5 separate regions of the Homo sapiens genome follow, and regions 1, 3, 4 and 5 are each linked to region 2. Evidence: fine-mapped expression QTL. A gene starts in region 2. Each other region holds a variant in brackets. All regions are shown on one strand. Distances are from middle to middle.

Region 1 (4,119 bases), 27 kb before region 2:
TTAGGGTATATATCTAGGTACCTTGAGAAATAAAACATAAATGGACTTCAAAATTAAAATTCTGAGTAGAAAAATAGTTACGCTTTAAAAAATTAAACTTTCAGATTTAGCCAGTAAACTGATGCAAATGGACAAAGTAATTAGATTTTAAGGAAGCAGACGTTTCCTGAAATTCTTAACTGACTTTTTCCAAAGAGAAATAAATTTGATTTGTACTTTTTTAGACTAGGTAATACCTGAGTACTCTGGTGGAATTAAATACTTAATGGTAAAAATACCACTTTTAGAATAGGCAAAGATTTTGTATGAAGCTGTAACACAGAAGAACAGTCATTTACAACACACACACAAAAGGGTGCCAGATATATTCTGGGCCAGGTTAAACATGCTGAGATCAAACATCAACTTAAGAATACACTGGGCCCTGAATCAATGGAAAAATCATTTGGCATTATGACACTCACCATGCAATCAAACCTCTGTTTAAAATCAAGTTACAATTACTCTAATTATGGACAAACATTTCATTTGTTGCACAACTGGTACCTAATCAAACACTTCTGTAGAAGAGATGATTTCACCACAAGGTAACTTAATTTCAGTGCGAAATAAGTCTTTTAAATTATTTTTAAAGAGTGTTTTTAACCAATTTACATGTCAGAAATTTTATTTCTATAAAAATTACTACATGAACTAAGTCTAAATCAAACAAAAATGCCTTCCTCTACTTTGAAACAATAGTCTTCTCTCATAAACATTTTATTCAAATATTTCCCAGCAACAGGCTTGTGTGCACTAACCAGGAAGTGAAACCAAATATGATCATATTGTGAAAGCAGAGTAAAATGAAAGAACACAATTGGAATTATCTGAAGCATTATTAAAATTTCATCTGAAAATCCAATTCCCTTGGAAACAACAATTTAATCAAGGAAGTAATAAAAGGAATTTCAAAAGCATAATTCTTCATTTTCTTGTGTGGCAGTGTCCCCAGTCTTCTATGCAAATATCTTTTCCTGTAGCCAGGCTGGCTCATCTGAAACACAAGCTTTCACCAACCCGCCTGGTGAACACAGGGAGCAGGGTTAAGCAATCATTTTCATGCTAGTAAATCAACTCTGGTATAAACGATTGCAATCTTTAATGACTTACTTTGGAGAAAAATGTATCTTTTGCTTCTTAGGTAACAAGTAAATCACATTTCTCTTAATTATTTTTCTGTGGTTACTGTCATTCCCTTTAATCTATTGTAAATTATAAGCTCTCTAAAACCAGAAAATGTATTTTACTGATTAGTCTGCTTTTAACTGACTCAGTAACCTAAACATAGTGAGAGTTATTATAAGTACCTAACGATTATTCTTATTGTCTAAGGATAGTGTTAGCAAACAAAACTCACTATGGTTTACATTTTTCTGCTAAGATGGATACTAAGTAGGATCATGAATTTCTGGGCTCCATTACCATATCTCTTATTCCAAGGAGATTGGGTGTGGGAGAAGGGGCTAGAAGACACCATGCAAAAACAGAATATATTCTCATTTACTAATTATTATTCTTTATACTTATTTTTAATTTTAAGCAGGATTTGAGTAAGCTTAGTATTATATACAGTACAATATTCTTATGAAAATGTCCTAGCAATCTAAATAAGAAGGTAGTTCCTGAACTACCTATGACTTCAGCAAGTGATCAGGTAGCCCCTATTAGACACTGCACAAACACAATGCAAATCTGAATATTAGTGCTACTCTGCAGACAAAGCAGACATACTGCTGCTCTGTATAAGAATGAAATGTAAAAGGAAAAAAAACTATGAATAAATAAGCAGTGACAGACAAATCTATTAGCACGGTACATGCATGTATATAAATATATATAATAATCAAATCATGTGGCTAGTGAATTCTAGAAACACTTGAGAGCCTACTATGTTTTAAGAACAGTGTCACACTTAAGAAACTGAGTCAATTCTATTGCCATGGTGTTAAGAGGTTGAAGAGCCTGGCTAGTGGGTCTCATTCAGAGCTTGTCTGTGGACGCACCAAAAGTATTGAGGCAGGCCAGACCGCTAGTCAGTCCCGTTTTCTTTGGGGACCCTCTTTTCTTGTTACTCCCTCACTCACTTTATCAAATACTGCACTTTCACCACAGAGCCTGATCCTTTATATTTATATTCATTGAATTCTCTTGACAGGGAGAATTCATTGAGCATTTGCTGTGGTATGGGCTGAATAAGATAAGAAAGTATATTTCATTTTCTATCTATCCTTAAAACACTTATAAAGTTAGGAAAATGAGAAATTTGTACAAAAAGTGAACAGGAAAAAAATGAAGGATTAAATAGTGGAGTGGAACAACTCTGAACATCTATATAATGCTCAAAAGTTTATGGAGCATTTTTTTCATAGTCATTTAAATCATACACTTGACTTTAGGATAAGGATACAAGCTCAGAGAGAAAAAAAATTAG[C/T]TGCTGATGACACATGGCTGGTGAGCAAGAGCTTGATCCTATAACTGACACCAAACATGGTGCTCTTCCAACCATCCAAAGCTTCCTCTTGTAAGATGAACAGGTATAGCTCAGGGAATGGAGAAGGCAACATAGATAAGGTATCTCTGAGCCGTTAGGGATATGCAGGGGCTGGAGCAGGAAAAAAATCTCCAGCGGGGTAGTGGGGAGGGAAAGAGCAGAGGGGTGTTGCCTGAGGAAGAGCAGTGAGGCTGCAGAGGATCTTCACGGCCAGAGGGGGACGACTTCACAAATAAATGAGGCAGTGAGGACATTTACGGTTGGAGATTCCAGAATATGAGAGTATGGCTTGAATTGACTTACAAAAGAGAACAATTATAGATTCTAAAATAGAATGCAAGCAATATTTTAGGAAAACTAACCTGGTAAGGCATGAGAGATACAATGGGGCAGGATCGGGGGCCGGGGGAAATGAAGGTAAGGAAACCAGGCAGGAACCTACTGCAGTCATTCAATGCTGAAGCAGTGAGAGTGAAGACCATGGTAGTATCAGTGAGACTGACCAGGAATGAAGGAATTTAGGCAGAACTGTGGGTTCTGGCTGACTAGAGAGCTGGGAAAAGGGAAGAGCAGTAAAGTTGGGCTGGTGAAAGGCTCTGTTATAAAGTGCTAGTTAATATTCCAATATTCAGTGGAAGACCAAGGAGCTAACTGGTGAATTTTGCCCTTTCATATCAAAGCAAGGCTAATAATTAACATAATTAATCTTTTATGCTTTATTAAAGGTTTGGCATAGCTAAGGTTTGACTGAGTACTGTTCTCGCAAGTGAACCTAGCGGGAAAGCTGAAGAAGGTGAGATGAAAAGGCCATTTAGGTCCAGACCTAATGAGACACAGGTACCATTCTATTGAACCCAAAAAGGTATTTGTGAAAGGGAGTGACTTAATCCAGTCAGCGTCAAATCTTAAATTTAAAAAGTTAGAATTTGCCACTTTGGTAGCAGCATGAACAACTCGTTAAAAAGGAGAAATACACATAGGGAGGAGATCAGGATAGATCAATTGTCCAGATGATAAACAGGAAAGGTGGCTTGAACTAAGATGTGCCTGAGTGTGAAGAGAAGAGGGGATAGAAGCAAAAGTACTACTATTACTTTTAAGTGCTTTCGAGCAGGTTCTCTGCTAACTAGCTTATGGGCATAGACTCTAGGGCTCCTTAGGTATCCCTTAGAAGGACTTGGTAGCAGATTAGATGTTAAGGAGAGTCAGGACTCAAGGACAAGTGACTTATCCTAGCTTTGGCCACAGGGTCAATGATGAAGGGGGCTAATGAGTGTGTTATTTAAAACACTGAGTTTGCAGTACCTGTGGGCCATCCAGGTAGTGAGGTCTAGTAGGCAGCTGAAAACACAAACTGGAGCCCTAGGGAGAGGAAAAAATATAAATGAGTTTGTTAAGCTGTTTTTGCTGAAGACTTGGGCCAATGTTGGACTTAAAGACCTGCACTTGGTAAAATTTTAAAAGTTATTTAAAATAAATAACTCAATGCAGCCTCAGTCCATCTCCCATATAAAAGAACTCATTTAATACCTTCCTTCCAGAATATTTCCATTTAAAGTTGGGACAATTTAGTTTTTTATGAAGAT
Region 2 (4,119 bases):
GGATTGGGTTAAACAGGCTATGAATAGTAAAAAGTCCAGAAAACATAAAATACTCAGGTACTATTAGAAGAATTTGAAAACTAAAATACAAAAACAAAAACCCTTGTTTATAAGAAAAACATTGGCTAAAACAAGGATGTTCTAAATTGTAAAATATTTTTCCCCTTAAACTTCAGAAAACAACAAAAAATAACAAATTTCAGGCCACTACAGGAAAATACATGGATTAGTCTAAAAAACTTGGAAGGCTTAGTATCCTTTAAGTTTTATTAAGCCCCTTTTCATTTTACTTACTGTTGGTGTTTTCACTCTGAGGATTCTGAAAATTAAAATAGCAATGGGAAATGGTGATAGTGGTAGAGAAGAGGTTTAAAAAAGCAAATCTCAACTAGTCAAATGAAATCATTCAAAATGTGAAAAGATTCATAATAGGCTGAACATGTTGGAACACCTTACCAATTGAGGAAAAAGAGAACACATTTCAAAGAATGGTAAACTTAATTCCGACATGCAGATTTAAAAATGTTGTTGGGGATACTAAGTATAAGGAAAGTGCCATGACCCAAGGGTGCACTCAATGACAACATCACCCCCATTCAAGAGACCTCTTTTTAGCTTACAGAAATATCAGACATGTTAGGGCTTATATTCTAAAATTACACAGGCCCAATTACCTTGGGGGTTGGCTGTCACTTTATATTCTCTGAGTAGAGCTGCTGACAAGGAAAGCCAGGAGAAAAAGAAAGTCACCTCGGCACCCACAATTCAGAGAGCATTTGGGGTCACACCTGTAATCCCAGCACTTTGGGAGGCCGAGGTGGGTGGGTCACTTGAGGTCAGGAGTTTCAGACCAGCCTGGCCAACATGGTGAAACCCCGCCACCACTAAAAATATAAAAATTAGCTGGGCGTGGTGGCGGGCCCCTGTAGTCCCCGCTACTCGGGAGGCTGAGGCAGGAGAATCACTTGAACCCAGGAGGTGGAGGTTGCAGTGAGCCGAGATCGCACTACTGCACTCCAGCCTGGGCGACAGAGTGAGACTCCGTCTCAAAACAAAACAAAGAAACAAAACAAAGAGCATTTGGGGTTCTCAGGAGGTGTAGCCTGTACACATAGAGGGTACTGGAATTGTTTAAAAAATTACACTGCAGTTTGACTTCTTTTCCATCCTCACTCCTACACCTAGGTTTAGGGGACAGAACCATCTGATAAAGATAAATCTGTTTTAAGATTTCTGGGGTGTTCTGCAAAGACTACTATATCATTTGCAAATAGGTTGTCTTTTAATAAAAATCATGCTACGTAATGTCTTCTTAATATACGCTGAACAAATTGCCTGTTTTAATTTGGCTATATATCTACAATTTAAAATGTTCATACTGTTATCTTTTACCAGTGGAGTGTTTTTTTGTTTGTTTGTTTGAAGTCTTTAGGCGAAGTGAATTTATTCAAGGAAGTTCACATGTCGGTTTTGTTCTTTTAGAGGGGTGTCTTTTTGACCACAAAGAAAAAAAAAGTTTTCCACAAATGTCATCTAACTAAAGGCAATCTATGGACTTTAGGAAGTCAGTTGAGCACACAGATTAATGAGCCAATACTGAGCCTCCTCCCTTCTGACCTCTCAGCACCTGCTCAACTAAGCTCAGGGGAAACTCTTGAGTCTTCTTCTTAAATTGGTAACGCTTGCCCTTTCTTTCTCAAACAAATCAACGCCCAACACCACCACCAAATTATAGGCAACCAACGCGTATCCAACAGCATAAAATAGTTCCCAAGAGCATAAAATAGTTCCCAACAGCGCCAGCGCAGGGGGCAAAACAGAGCGACCAAATGGGGGCACCCTCAGGGGAGTTGCGCTCATCTGGAGCGAGACGCCAGCCTGGGAAAGCGGAACCCCTTTCCCGCCCCGCCCCGAGGACTCACGCTCAGGTGCAACGCCGAGACTCCCGGGGGAAAGAGAGGTGACCGTCTCGGCGCGACCGCCCACACCTCTTGCTCCAAATGACCCCAGCACACAGGAGAGGTCCTCTCAGCGTGGGACTCCGTCTCTCCCGAAGGCAGGGAGCACAACGAAGCGGCCACTCGTCTCTGCAGCCGCGCTACCGGCCCGCAGCCTGGCTCGCAGGTGAGGCGTGAACAGGTAACCGCACCTGTTCGGCCAGCCCCACCTGCTGCGTCCCCGTATCCGGTCCTCCTCCTCCACCACCTCGGTCGGCGCGGCTCGCCCTCCTGGAACCGGGGTGTCACGCTCCGACCTACCTGCGCGACTCCAGCCCCGGACGCCCGCGCTCCCCGCGGCGTGCTCCTGGGCCGCTCCGGGCGGGCAGGCTGCGGCCCCGCGCCCGCACTTTCCCGGCTGCCGGAGGCTGCGGGCTCAGCGGGAAGCCCCGGCGCTGTCCGGCTCGCCGCCTCCGACCGGCTCCATTGTGACGCGACGCGTTCCGCTGGCCAATGGGCGCTCGGCGGCGCGAACCGCTGACTAAGTTCGCGGGTGGAGGAGGAGGGGACGGGGCGGAGGCAGGGCGCGGAGGCGGCTACCACGGTGGTGGCGGTAGCAGTGGCGGAGGAGGAGGAGGAGGAGGAAGAGGAGGAAGAGGCTGCAGTCGCTTCGGTAGCTGCTCCTGCTGTGAATTTTTCAGCTGCCTGGGCCTGAGTGTTTGCCCAGCTCTGGGGCTGCGGGAGCCAGTGACTCACCTATCACTGCTGGAAACAAAGCGCAGCTGCCATCTCCCCGAGCGCGCCATGTGGCCATCGCTGCCCCCTCGCCCAGCCTGGGGTCCGCAGGAGGTAGCGCACAGCCATACGCCCCGCGGAGCAGCTGGAAAGAGCGGGGACTGCTTTCCAGAAGCGGGAGGGAAATGGGCTTCGGCGTGTCCCCCAGGCGCGCCACACCGGTGACTTCGGCACTACACCGCGTGTGTCGGGCCCCAGCCTTCTCACGTGTGCGTCCCTGAGTAACTTGGCATTTATATAACGCGTGTTGGGCCCTGAGGGAAAGGTCGGGTGCAGCACGCGGGAACCTCCTCTTCGAAAAGGAAGTCCCCTTACTTTTCTTTACCCTGCTTAGAAAGATTGCAGGGCCCAGCCTCTGTGAGGGAGGGTTTACAGTTGTACCAACTAAGCGGCTTAAGTTCGATTCTGGCCTTCCAATACCATTGGCTTCTCTCAAATGTCGTTATCCTCAGGATAGGGAGGGGACCACATGGCCGAGGGGCGGTCCCTATACTCATAACCTGCCTTTCACTGCGATTCAACTGCAGAGACACCTCAACTACTGCCCGCTTGCTTCTCTCCCAAGTGGCACTGCATTTGAAGGCCAACAATATTCCTTACGAAACAGAATTAATCCAAACCCACAAATTCTAGGGACATAAATATTTTTATCATCCTCATCCATTTCCCCACTCTCACCCTTACCCCAGTTTTAACTCAGTCTCTGCCCTGGCTATTATCTTGAGCACACTGATTCAATTAGGCAAGATTTATGTCTTTTAGTTGCTATGGTGGTCACATCTCCATTTAAAAAAAGAAAGAAAAAACAAGTTTGTACCGGCATCTCCCAAAGGAATAAAATGAAGACGAACAGACTCAGCATTTGGGGCATCTGAGCAGTTTGTGTAAATGGGAGTATAGCAAATGCCCTATCGAGTTAATATGAGACAAGAGTTGTGTCTCAGACTGTTCAGATGAGGACTACAATTTGAGTCACCCTGAAAGGGAAAAAGAAGGCTGTCTTTGTGTCACTGATCTGTTCTTTTCTTGTTCACTCAGTCCATTCTGGAACTGCAGATATCTTTTTTCTGAGTCTTGAAGGAAAAGCTGAAAGAACATTTCTTCACTTGGTCATTCGATAAATTTTTATTGAGTTTATATGTGTGAGACACTGGGTATGCACAGATCTACAAGTCTAATTTAAATTTAGGTTTGATCCTTACAGGAGTATCTGAAATTCTCTCAGGGACTTTCTGATTAATTATTTTTGGTAGAAGAAAATTCTAAAAGACTCTGTCACTACTTTCACAGCCAGATTTACCCAAGTCTAAAATAGTGATTAAAAATTCCATCATGGATTTTAAGCACCAAAAAAATGACAGGCAGGTCTCAATCGTTTTAGAGGTTT
Region 3 (4,119 bases), 48 kb before region 2:
AAGTTTTACTGGCAGTAATGTTCTGGATCTGATCTTTGGACCTGAGGCCACTTCTTTCTTTGAGTATCTTTTGCTGGGTAGAGGAACTGGTCTTTTGCTGGGTAGAGGAGCTGGGGATGAGAAACAGTCGGATTTACAATCTGAGAAAATTCAGGATTGGAAATACTTCCTCTAAAGTCTGCTTAAAATTAAAATAGTTTCTTCTTTAATTAGTCTCTTTCTTGAAATACTTTGATCACAGTATCAAAAAAAAAGGGGAGTTAAAAAAGGAGTTAAAGGGGTCACTCAGAGCTTCTGATATTTTGCTGGAAAATCTCCTGAGCTAGATCCACAAGTTCATTAGGTTCATTTTCTATGTTCCATGTTACTGTAGGTCATGGTCTTGCTGACTTTTTTCTCAATATAAAACAAGGGTACCATTTGACATCCTCCAATAGCAATAGTATTCTAACTGCCCTTCAGGCCTTCACTGACACCTGGTCTCAAAGCCAAAATGCCAGATTTTTGTTATGCCAGCATCTCACTTCTAGGTACCAATTTTTGTTTTGATTCTTTATTCTGTGTAACAAGTCACATCAAAACTTAGTGGCTAAAGTAACAATTCATAATTTCTCATGATTCTATGGGATGATCTGGCAGTTCACATGGTGAGGGCTGGAATGCTAGAATACTCAGAAGGCCCAAAGTGCCTCAAGTCACAACACTGGTGCTTCTACTGATTGCTGGCTGGGAGCCCAGCTTCGGCTGTCGACCAGGGGCCTTGCCAGTCCTCTATATGGCTAATTGGGCTTCCTCATAGCAAGAGACTAAGATCTAAGAGGAATGTTTCAAGCACACAAAAGCAGATGCTACAAGTCTCTTAAGGCCCAGCCTTGGAAATTACTCCACACCATTTCTGCCACATTCTATTGATCAAAAAACCTACCACAGCCAGCCAGATTCCAAGGGTGGGGATATCAACTCCACCTCTTGATAGGCAGAGTTGCTAGGCCTTAGCAGCCATGTTTAGCCCACCGTAGGAAGTCATGAACACTTAAGTGGTGGTCAGTGCCACAGAAATGAATTATCTGAGAGAAAGAATTTAGTGAGTGAAGGACAGAATTGCTGTCCCCTCTATAAAATAGATAAGGAAGGTTTATTAGATAAGGAAGATTGAAAAAGGATAGAGAAGCAGGATCAGTGAGGTAAAGGAGAAGCACAGTATTTCTGGAACACAAAAATCAGAATTCAAGGAAAGAAGCTGACATCATCATAAAATAATACACAGAAACCAAAGGAGAAGAGAGACATACAACTGCCATTCCAGAGCTTCTGACCCAAAACTGTAGTAAGATAATGGGTCTGGGAAACAATTTGATGAATACTCTAAACATTAGGAAAATCACCCTAGTCATCAGAAGCCCTTGGAGAAAGTTATTGAATAAATGAAATAAAATAAATAATTATAAATAGTAAGTAATAAATTAAATAAAAAAGTTACTGAGTGAATTAAAACCATGGAAAAATTCTAGAAATCCTAATGACATCTGAGTTGTTCTTTTTTTTTTTTTCTTTTTTTGAGACGGAGTCTTGCTCTGTGCTCAGGCTGGAGTGCAGTGGCGCGATCTTGGTTCACTGCAAGCTCCGCCTCCC[A/G]GGTTCACACCCTTCTCCTGCCTCAGCCTCCTGAGTAGCTGGGACTACAGGTGCCTGCCACCACGCCCGGCTAATTTTTTGTATTTTTAGTAGAGATGGGTTTTCACCATGTTAGCTAGGATGGTCTCGATCTCCTGACCTCGTGATCCGCCCACCTCAGCCTCCCAAAGTGCTGGGATTACAGGCGTGAACCACCGTGCCTGGCCGACATTTGAGTTATCCTAAACTTTAAGGAATATTGCTTCATTTTTACTTATTTCTGGCAGTTATAGAATACATCATATATTTAATGTAGATAATATTTTTCTCTTTAGGAAAAGATCTCTCAATTCTTTGAAGTTTTTAGTAAGCTACCATATTTTCTAAAATCTATTTAAAATAAAAGAAGTTGCAGCCATATTCTTGTAATATTAACACAAGCATAAGCCACTAGTTGCTGGATAATTCTTACAGAGAAGGTGTAAATAGAAGGCAACCTCAAATCCTTCTCCATCACCTTTTGCTGTTTATAAGACTATTTTCCTGACCACCCCCCAACACCACAGTAAGCAAGCCATAATACGTAGAACAAAACCCACTCCCTATGTAGTCCCTTCTGAATCACACTCTCACCTTTCAAATGACAGGCAGACAGCAGAGACCAAGTGGACGAAAGAATCTCAAAGTTGGAAGATGGCCTTTCTGAATGAACAAAGCCTCCAAGAAATATGGGATTATATAAAAAGACTGAATCTATAGCTGATTGGTTTACCTGAAAGAGATGGGGAGAATGGAACCAACCTGGAAAACATATTTCAGGGTATCATCCATGAAAACTTCCCCAATCTAGCTAGAGAGGCCAACATTCAAATTCAGGAAGTGCAGAGAACCTCAGTAAGATACTTCACAAGGAGATCATCCCCAAGACACATAATCAACAGATTATCTAAGGTTGAAATGAAAGACAAAATGTTAAATAGGCAGCTAGACAGAAAGGTCAGGTCGCCTACAATGAAAAGCCCTTCAGACTAATAGCGAACCTCTCAGCTGAAACCCTACCAGCCAGAAGACATTAGGGGTCAATATTCAACATTCTTAAAGAAAAGAAATTTTAACCCAGAATTTCATATCTGGCCAAATGAAGCTTCATAAGCATAGGAACACCCAGATTCATAAAGCAAGTTCTTAGAGACCTTAAAGAGACTTAGACTCCCAATCAAAAATAGTAGGAGACTTTAACACCCCACTGACAATATTAGACAGATCATTGAGACAGAAAATTGACAAAGATATTCAGGACCTAAACTCAGCACTGAATCAAATGGACCTGATAGATATCTACAGAACTATCCAACCAAAACAACAGAATATACATTCTTCTCAATGCCATTGCCACATGGTACAAACTCTAAAATTGATCACATAATTGGAAGTAAAACATTCCTTAGCAAAAAAGAAAAAAAAAAGAAAGAAAGAAAACCAGCACACAACAATAATCCCCTCTCTCACCACTCCTGTTCAACATAGTATTGAAGTCTTTGCCGGGCAATCAGGCAAGAGAAAGAAAGTGCACCCAAATAGGAAAAGAGGAAATCAAAGTATCCCTGTTTGTGATGTCGTGGTTTTATATCTAGAAAACCCCACAGTCTCAGCCCAAAAGCTTCTTAAGCTGGTAACTTCAGCAAAGTCTCCAGATACGAAATCAATGTATGAAAATCACTAGCATTCCTATACACCAACAACAGTCACGTTGAGAGCCAAATCAGGGACAAACTCCCATTTACAACTGGCACAAAAAGAATAAAATACCTAGGAATACAGATAACTAGGGAGAACTACAAACCATTGCTCAAAGAAATTGGAGATGACACAAAAGAAATGGAAAAACATTCCATGGTCATGGATAAGAAGAATCTGTATCATTAAAAATGTCCATATTGCTCAAAGCAATATATGTATAGATTCAATGCTATTCCTATTAAACTACCATTGAAATTCTTCACAGAACTAGAAAAAACTATTTTAAAACTCACATGGAACCAAAAAAAGAACCTGCACAGCCAAGGCAATGCTAAGCAAAAGGAACAAAGCTGGAGGCATCACATTGCTAAACTTCAAACTATACTACAGGGCTACAATAACCAAAAATAGCATGGTACTGGTACAAAGCGGACACATAGACCAATGGCACAGAATAGAGAACCCAGAAATAAGACTGCATACCTACAACTATCTGATCTTCAACAACACAGAAACAAGCAATGGGAAAAGGATTCCCTATTTGATAAATGGTGCTCGGATAACTGGCTAGCCATATACAGAAGATTAAAACTGGACCCCTTCCTCACACCATATACAAAAACGAACTCAAAATGGATTAAAGGCCAAATTATAAAAACCCCAAATTATAAAAACCCTGGAAGACAACCTAGGCAATACCATTCAGGACAATAAGCATGGGCAAAGATTTCATAATGAAGATGCCAAAAGCAATTGGAACAAAAGCAA
Region 4 (4,119 bases), 58 kb before region 2:
GTTGTTGGTCACAGCAAAGTACTGCAAATTACTCAGATACTGGATTTCTTCTGGAATGAAGGTCAAGTGGTTATAGCTTAGATCCAAATAATGTAGTTTAGTGCATAGGAAAAGCTGCAAGGGCAGATTCTCAATATTATTATGGTCCAAAGAGAGCTGCTCTAGGTTAGATAATGCCCCAATCTGTGCAGGAATATAAGCAATGTTATTGTGCCACAACTTTAAGCAGGAAAGATTCTGAAGATGCTGAAAGCTAATGATCTCTTCCACAGTTTTAAGGTTATTTTCCCTTAGGTCTAACTCATGCAAATTATTCAGGCTGAAAATGGAATGTGGGATGCGTTCCAGGTCACAGCTGATCAGTTCTAGGCTTTTCAGATTGACCATCTTTTTCAAGTTGTTCAACACAACCAGTTTGCTTCCCTCATTATCAAGGGACAGTTTCTGCAATGAAGGCAGGAGGTCTGTAACAACTTGTGGGATCCGGGAGAGGCTGCTCTTCAAGTACAGGGTCCTTAGATTTTTTAAGTCCTGAAAGCCCTCCAACTGCATAGTACTCAACTGTTCAGGGAGAACACAGCCCGAAAGATAAAGTTCCTTGAGATTCTTGAGGTGAAATACCCAGCGTGGGATTTTTCCCATTTCAGTAAATTTCAGGCGGAGGATTTTTAAATTCTCCTCTAGAAAGGCCAGTGCAGGATGGTCTACGACCAGAGATGAATGGTACACACGAAGCTCCTTGAGGTTGACCAGCTGTGAGACTGCAGAGGGCAGCTTCACCTCTGGGATAAGCTCCAGGCTTAGCACTTCCATTTCAGTTAACTCAAAGACATTGTCTGGAAGACCGTTGAGCATAAAAAGATGCAGTTCTATCTTGTCCTGGGCATTTTTCACAAGCTTACTTTTCAGTTTCTCAACTGTCCATTCATTATTGAGGTTGATCTGTTTCAGTTTGTTCTCACTGACCTCTGATAGGAATATGGAGAAGCGTTTGGAATAAAGAGGATCATACTGATCAGCCAGATGAAGGATGAAGGCAAAGTCATTCTTGACATCAGGGATGTCACTGTAGTTGCTTTTTTCTCTTAACGCCTCAAAGGAATATTGCTTCAGGGAACTCCTCAGCATCCACCACAGGCTGTAGGAAGAGGTCAGACCATAAAGTATAACCAAAATGACATAAAATGAAGCCAGGACCTTAAAGATTTCTGCCAAGGAATAGACACACTGGTAGCGCTTATATCCTGTAAAAGCCTGCACATCAACTGAACAGTCGATTTCAAGAGTGATGTGGGTTAAAAAATATGGAACATAAGTTATGATGAGCACAAACAAAATGACTTTGACTATTATCTGTTTCAGATATACTCTATAAATGATGTCCTTCTGCTCCACATGCATGCGGAATCTTTTCACTTTTTCAAAGATGGCTTTGGCCTGTTCACCCTCCTTCTTGTCCAGGACACTGGAAGTTGGGCTTTCTATGCCAGCTGACTCCAAACCTGGCTGTGGGTAGGGCAATGACTGTTTGCCGGAATCTATGTCAGCTGAACACCCTGAGGACGAAAGCAAAATCTTGGACTTGGAGAGTTTCAGAGGCCTCACTGACTGCTCAGCCACTGTTTCTGAAAGGGCGCGGGTGGTCCATGGAGAATCGAAGCACTTGTGAAGGATGGCCACAAAATGCTCGAGCCTGGAACTGGTACTGGGGTAGTGAAGCCAAAAGTTGCTGCAGGCTGCAAAGATGAGCGTGTGCAAGAGCACCAGATAGGGGAAAAACTTTGCAAACCAATGGAGCTGTTTCTCGTAACAGACGGCATCAATATAGGAGTACTGCTGTCGGTGGAGGTCATTCTGAATTCGGAGGGGGAGCGGAAGCGGTGTCCCAGGATTAGAGGATGTGTTCATGCTGGCTTTCAGGATGTCCCAAGGCACGGCACAGTGATTGTCAAATTCCACTTTGCATGGAAGACAGCACAGAACCCTGCTCTGCGTCAGCTGGAGAGCTCCGGCCAGCACGGCCACCAGCAGCATGATCAGTGTGATGTAATACCAGAAGACGTCCCACCATGGTTTTAAGATGTGATAAGATGACTG[G/A]GCATCTGCTAAGCATTTTAGCTCAGTTAGTGTAATCATGACTTTCCCTTGTAGGAGGACAGAAACTGGAAGAGGGAAATAAAAGAAACACTACTGAAGCAAGTACTCAAATAAGCATTTTACTCTAATATTCATACACACATGCCCTCCTTCCCAAGTAGGATTTAGCTCTGGGGTAAAACCTAAAAGGAAGAGCTGATTAAGGGGCACATAAGTCTTCTGGTTTCATTTGAAACTATAGGCCATCCAACTCTGAACCATAGTCTCTTAGATGGGGGACCATTTAGTGATACTGACTAGAAAGAAATTTAGGGGTAGCCCTTGAGGTAATTATCTCGTTACCTCTTGTATCTCAACTCCAGGCTAGGCTACTAAAAACCAGGAGCCAATTTTTCTTCAACTGACATTTGAAAAACTTGTTCCTATGCTACTAATATTTTTTTCTTTCTTTCTTTCTTTTTTTCTTCCTTTTTTTTTTGAGACAGGGTCTCACAGGCCTCAGACTCTTGGCCTCAAGTGATCCTCCCTGCTTGGCCTCTGAAAGTGCTGGAATTACAGCTATGAGTCACCACAGCCAGCCACCTAATTTCCAGTGGTCACATTTTACCTTCCAAAATGTCTGAGTAAGCTCCTTTCCACACCTTGTCCCATGTCTGAAGCATCACTTACAGCCCAAGAGTTGTTTTAGTCACCACAAGGAGCCTCTTTTAAGCAAGCTCTGCTTTGTGAAATTACCCCTTAGGCTTAGTGGGGTCTACAATTCTATGCCCAGAACAACCTGTCACTGAATGCATTATCTCCTTTCCACACAAGCTTTCGCTTTGTAATTTAAGTACATGAGTATGAAAAAACTTAGAGTATTTAAAAGTTGGGAAGTATTTAAAAGTTATGGCTTAAAAAAGAATAAGAAAGAAAAGCTCTGCTAGAATATTCTATCATGGGGACTCCCTCTCATGTTTAATGTTGTGATGGCAAAGTACTAAAAGGATAAACGATGGAGGCATATTCCATTATTAAATTACTTTTGCCTTCAGGAAAACAAGATTATCTTGTATTTTCATACTGAAAAGTATTCAGACAACATTCCTGAGAATTTCTATGTTGAGTCTTACATACATCAATTGTTTCAAAAATTGCTAATCAGTAAAATCCAGATGATCTATAAGATGGCACAGAGTAAAGTAAAAGGAAATATGTGGGTCTTAGAAAATATCTGATAAGAAAAAGAAGAAAAATAATAATGGTAGCATGGTGCCCCCTTGCTGGTAGTCCAGCTCTAATCTATTTTCAAGGGTTTCTCTTGGATTTTCTTGAGTCTGAAGTCTTATCATTTATTCTGGGCCAGAGTTACTCTCTAGACACTCTAGTATTAGTAGCATCCCCAAGGAAGCCTTTTTTTTTTTTTTTTTTTTTTTTGAGACGGAGTCTAGTGGCGTGATCTCAGCTCACTGAAACCTCCACCTCCTGGGTCCAAACAATCCTCCCGCCTCAGCCTCCCGAGCAGCTGGGACTACAGGCACATGGCATCACGCCCAGCTAATTTTTGTGTCTTTTTAGTAGAGACAGGAGATGGGGTTTCACCATGTTGGCCAGGCTGGTCTCGAACTCCTGACCTCATGATCTGCCCACCTTGGCCTCTCAAAGAGCTGAGATTATAGGCCTGAGCCACTGTGCCTGGCCAGGAAGACTTTTTTACTCTCATTTGCCCTCTTTCTGGGGTCTGGTATCCTGCCTTGAACCTTAGAGTCCCATTACAGAGTCCCTGCTCCCTGTTAATAAGTCTCATCCTCAGCATATTCCTGACCATCTGACCCTGAACCCTACAGCTTCATGCTCTTGTACCTGTTAAGGCATTTTACAATTTCTGAGCTTAACTGCTGGACTGGAGCACTACTTTCTGCTTGTGTCCTCTCTGGGTATCACATAATATTATATGGATTCACCTTCCTCCTAGGACCTACAGGTGGATTATATAGCTCTTCAGGGCTTCTCTCCTTCACTCCAGTTTAGTGGATCTATTTC
Region 5 (4,119 bases), 75 kb before region 2:
TTAAGATGCAGATTACAACTAAAATGAATGCAGCTTATTAGAGAATACACAGATTCTAGAGTTAGGTGGGAGACATGGGTGCTGATCTGGCTCTTCCACTAGTCTTTGGTGAAATGCGGATTATCTGTGCTCTTCAGAGCCAGCACAGTAGGGTGAAAAGAGCACTCAACGGGGGCATGCACAGATCATGGTACCATCTTCCTAAATCACTGGGGCTGTGATCTCCAACAAGCCACTTAACCCTTCCTTCTCAGCAAATTCTCCATGGTTTCTTCTCATTGGGAAGATCTCTGAATCCAGAATTACATTAGAGGATGAGGAGGAAAATAAAACATACAGGAAGTGACTATGGCTGAGGAGATAGAAACTAGGATAGCTATAGAGCAGGAGGAAGCACTAGGATCAAAGCAGACTGGACGAGACCACTGAGCTCTGAAAACCAGAGTTTTCAAAACTCCAAGGTGGTTATGAGAGGATAAAGTTGATGTTTAATGTTCAGCTAATCTCTGTAGAAACAGGCTATGCAGACCTGTAGGTTGAATATGGTTCCTGTTCTCAGCAGTCATGAGACCTTGGGATGGTAATAATTTGAAAGTCTTCTTTCTCACCTGTAAAATCAGAACAACATACCAAATAGGGTTGTTGGCTGGATTGAGAGAGTACACATGGAAAACCTAGCAGACTGCCTGGCACACAGGAGGTGCAAAATAAAGTTATTGTCATATACCACCTCAATACTTCTTCCTACAGTGATGCTCTCCAAACTCAAGGATCAGGAACTAAATAGTTAGATTATTCTCTTTTCTCAATTTGAAGCCACCAGTGAGGTTCCCGACATGCATTGTGCTGCTCTGATATCACAAGCCAAGCAGATTTTCCTCAGGCCACTTAATGCGTGTTGCATCAATTCTTCACGTGGCTACTTCTTTAGGCTTTCCCTTTTCACAGAACAACTGCCAGAGAAAGGCTCAATCTATTATGAAAAGTGTGGTTTGATCCACTTGAAAAAGAGAACTGTTCTTTTCTCCCCTTGAGGATCTGAGAAGTTTCTCTATGCATTACTACAGACAAGGGTGTGAATCCAACCCAAGCTCAGGGAAAGACTAGAAGGAAACTCCCTTCACACAGGTGGTGTTTAGTCCCCCACTAGTGGTGCAGTTTCAGAAACTCCAGAAGGGAAACCTTCCCACCTACTCCTTAATGACTGAGAAGCATTTCAAGGGAGAAACAGTTTTTCACACCACAATGGTAACTCGTTCATTCCTGTTGAGAAGAAAATAGTCATGGCCATATCCAAGGTACTCACATGCTAGGCTGTGCTGAACTAAGGGTAAGTGCACTTAAACAGGTGCCTGGGGTATTAATTTACAAGGAGTAACTACATGTCATTGGAGTAATTGGAAATTTGGTGCCAGTTAACTCAGGTTTCCACATGTAATTCCTTATGTTAGCAGCCTAACAAATGAAACTTGGCCCTTTTCCCATTCAACATAAGGAATAAGTCTCTTATTTTAAATTTGAAACTGTGGCAAGAAACTACCTTCTAGAAACAGAGAATCTTGATAACTGGGAGACATGTATTTTGGTGAGAACAAGCTAAAGCATCATCCTTGGAATAATAGGTATTTCATATTCTTGAAGATGGGAGTTAGTAATAGGTGAGGATACGTAAGCTTGGAGTATGGTGGTTGGGGCAATGCCGAGCAGCACAATCCTAGAGCAAGCGAAAGAGAGCAAGAGCCCACAAAAGTGGTTGGAGGGAGTGAGATCTGGGAGGGATAAGGGTGCGGGACAAAGAGAGTAGGATGCTTTGAAAGGGAACAAGAAGGGAGACTTAGCAGCTGACAGGCCTGCTCACAAGGCCCGGGAGACTGATTGTCGATTGGGGATATTCGACAGAAATGCCGTGAGCTGTAAAACCTCATATTCCCTACAGCCCCTAGGCCCACTTGTCTTTCTGCTAAATTATCTTTAAACTCTTTCTCATTCTTGCTAGATAGAGTTTTAGTTTTGGAAAAAGGAATACAAAGATAGTTAAAATGTTCATGATTGTTTTTTCCAACAGAACGCCAGTTTTCCCATTTCTACCAAAAACATGTTGAATAAACATTCTAAGCATGTTCTTTTAAAGGGGTACCACACACTTA[C/AC]CTGCCCAGGGTGCCCACACGGTATGGTCTGATCTTGGTGCCAGGAACTGCATGGGGCTATGTGCATCTCATTTGAGGTACAGTTACTGATATTAAGTGAGGGCCAATGAATCCTCAAGATCTTACCGTGGGGGCTGCATTTGATAAAGGCAAGGGAAGGCAAGGAGAAACTGAGTATAGGAGCAAGAAACTGGATGCTGTGGTTTAAGGACCATATCAGGAAGGAGAGGCTAGGCTCCAAAACAGTAATTGCAGGGTCAGTGCTGATTCATAACTTTGTAAATCTTTTACACCTGCAATTGTGAGGCCCACGCTCCATGAGGAAGAAGGTTGGCCAAGATTTACAAATGTTGATAAACCTAAAAAAGCATTTCTACTCTACCTACAGAGGCTAGGACTGAGAAGTCACTGCTCTTGGCAAATAAGCGATTGGTAATCTGTGTAAGAGAAATTACCAGGAGGGGCAGAAACTGGGACATGTGGAGAGCTGGACAGAAGTGGGTTGAAAAGTGAATACTCAGTGAGGAAATAGGGCTGACCAGAAGGTTTGGTGTTAAAGGAAAGCAGAGAGAATCTGTGATGGCTTTGCAGGTAAGTAAGATAGGCATGAATCTTTTTTTCCAAAAGAAAGAATCTGGAGTTATATTAACCTACAGATGGGTGTTGGTGGCATGCTTCTATTTGACATTTTCTCCTCTCAGCAGCAGAGGGAGGTAGAGAGTAAAAAAAATGATGTGGATTGAGCCCTATAGGAATACAAAGGGCTCCAAAATGGAAGGTATTTATCATAAGGAAATAATTTGAAAATCTCAAGAGCTAACAGGCAGCTCTATAGAATCTCTGCTATTTAGGAGGCAGAAAGACATAACTCGAGTCTAGGGGAAGATGAGATAACATGGGATAAAGAAAGAGATTTGCATTTTAAAAAGACTACGCATATTAAAGTGGCCTTTTCTGATCCTTCTTTAGCATGTCGATGTAGGATCTTATGTAAATATGGGACTTGAGTTTGAGGTCTGGCTTTGTGCATTTTGGATAAACTGCTTTTCCCTAGACCTCAGGAATGAGGGTGACAAAACACCAGGTGGGAACAGAGAAGGAAACAAACCATAACAAAAGTTGCCGCTCCAGAGAATGGAACCTTGCCCTCAACAGCACCGGAGTCTCTCCCTTCCAGTTGAGCCCTTTACCACTTTTTCAAAAAGCCATTTTGAAATGTGGAAGTGAATGCTGAAGTACATGAAGCCACAGTTATTGCTGTGTTTAGGGGGCCATGTCACTGCTGGGCAGACTGTTAGCATATAACTTCAGCATCTCAAAGCACCTAGCAGTCCCTGAAAGGCTGCTAATGCCTGGAGGCAGGCACTCACTTCATTTCAATAGACTTCCCATTCCTGAACCACTTAGAGATGGGGGAAGCCTTTCTTGAATGACTTACTGCATTTTCAGAGAATATGGCCAGGGAACAACTAAGTTACTTTCCTTCATAATCTGATTCAGTCTATATATATTCCAGCAAAATTCTGGCTATCAGCCTTCTAATGTGGTCCTGAAACTGTGTGTGTGTGTGCATGTAAGAGACCGAGAGAGGCTGTTTTCTATCGAAAAGTTCAAACTATCATGTACTTATTTTATCCAGTAATTCAATTTTTTCACCTTTGACTAAACCATCTCAGAATTGCCTGTCTTGCAGTTCTTTAGCTTTTGCTTACCTGGTTCACAATTCAGTGTTAAACAGGAAATGGAGAAACAGGCACCAAGAAGAAAGGAGAGAGATGAGGCGTTCTATGAACATCTGTCCCTGATGAATTCCAAGGAAAGACGGGCCCACTCATGAGAGATCTACTACCCCCCGCAACCCATGTATTCTAGGATCCACGCAGCTCTTTTCAGGTGCTTGTTATTTTGTGGCCATGGTAGCATATTTTGAAAACTCATACCATTGTTGTAAGATTCACATGTAAATCTGAAA

Direction of the effects. Positions count from the first base shown, and alleles are read on the strand shown. Sizes are in standard deviations (SD) of each study's normalised expression. Not every link is listed here.
As copies of G replace A in region 3, the expression in subcutaneous fat of the gene that starts at base 2,452 in region 2 goes up (small effect, 0.36 SD a copy in GTEx).

The links. PIP is the estimated chance that this variant, and not a neighbour inherited with it, causes the effect. A credible set is the group of variants that fine-mapping cannot tell apart.
Region 1: its variant is the best candidate, but not a certain one, in a credible set for the expression of LRRC8B in whole blood (INTERVAL, PIP 0.76).
Region 3: its variant is the best candidate, but not a certain one, in a credible set for the expression of LRRC8B in subcutaneous fat (GTEx, PIP 0.57).
Region 4: its variant is the best candidate, but not a certain one, in a credible set for the expression of LRRC8B in testis (GTEx, PIP 0.71).
Region 5: its variant is the best candidate, but not a certain one, in a credible set for the expression of LRRC8B in whole blood (INTERVAL, PIP 0.90).

What each region holds. Positions count from the first base shown.
Region 1 is chr1:89,549,691-89,553,809 of GRCh38, reverse strand. The region is part of intron 1 of LRRC8B (leucine rich repeat containing 8 VRAC subunit B); the gene reads right to left. LOC124904216 (a long non-coding RNA gene) reads left to right here and starts at 2,921. Exons shown (of 3, transcript XR_007066214.1): 1 at 2,921-2,950; 2 at 3,259-3,326. The variant C/T (reference allele first, on the strand shown) is at 2,474.
Region 2 is chr1:89,523,162-89,527,280 of GRCh38, reverse strand. LRRC8B (leucine rich repeat containing 8 VRAC subunit B) reads right to left here and starts at 2,452. Exons shown (of 6, transcript NM_001369817.2): 1 at 2,259-2,452. RefSeq lists enhancers at 424-925, 926-1,427 and a silencer at 2,129-2,588.
Region 3 is chr1:89,570,738-89,574,856 of GRCh38, reverse strand. The region is part of intron 3 of LRRC8B (leucine rich repeat containing 8 VRAC subunit B); the gene reads right to left. Among named protein-coding and RNA genes, the nearest start is that of LRRC8B, 48 kb to the right of the region's middle. The variant A/G (reference allele first, on the strand shown) is at 1,633.
Region 4 is chr1:89,580,668-89,584,786 of GRCh38, reverse strand. LRRC8B (leucine rich repeat containing 8 VRAC subunit B) reads right to left here. Exons shown (of 6, transcript NM_001369817.2): 5 at 1-2,162. The coding sequence starts at 2,136. Among named protein-coding and RNA genes, the nearest start is that of LRRC8C-DT, 50 kb to the left of the region's middle. The variant G/A (reference allele first, on the strand shown) is at 2,098.
Region 5 is chr1:89,597,961-89,602,079 of GRCh38, reverse strand. No RefSeq gene overlaps it. Among named protein-coding and RNA genes, the nearest start is that of LRRC8C-DT, 33 kb to the left of the region's middle. RefSeq lists enhancers at 1,064-1,313, 3,361-3,877. The variant C/AC (reference allele first, on the strand shown) is at 2,148.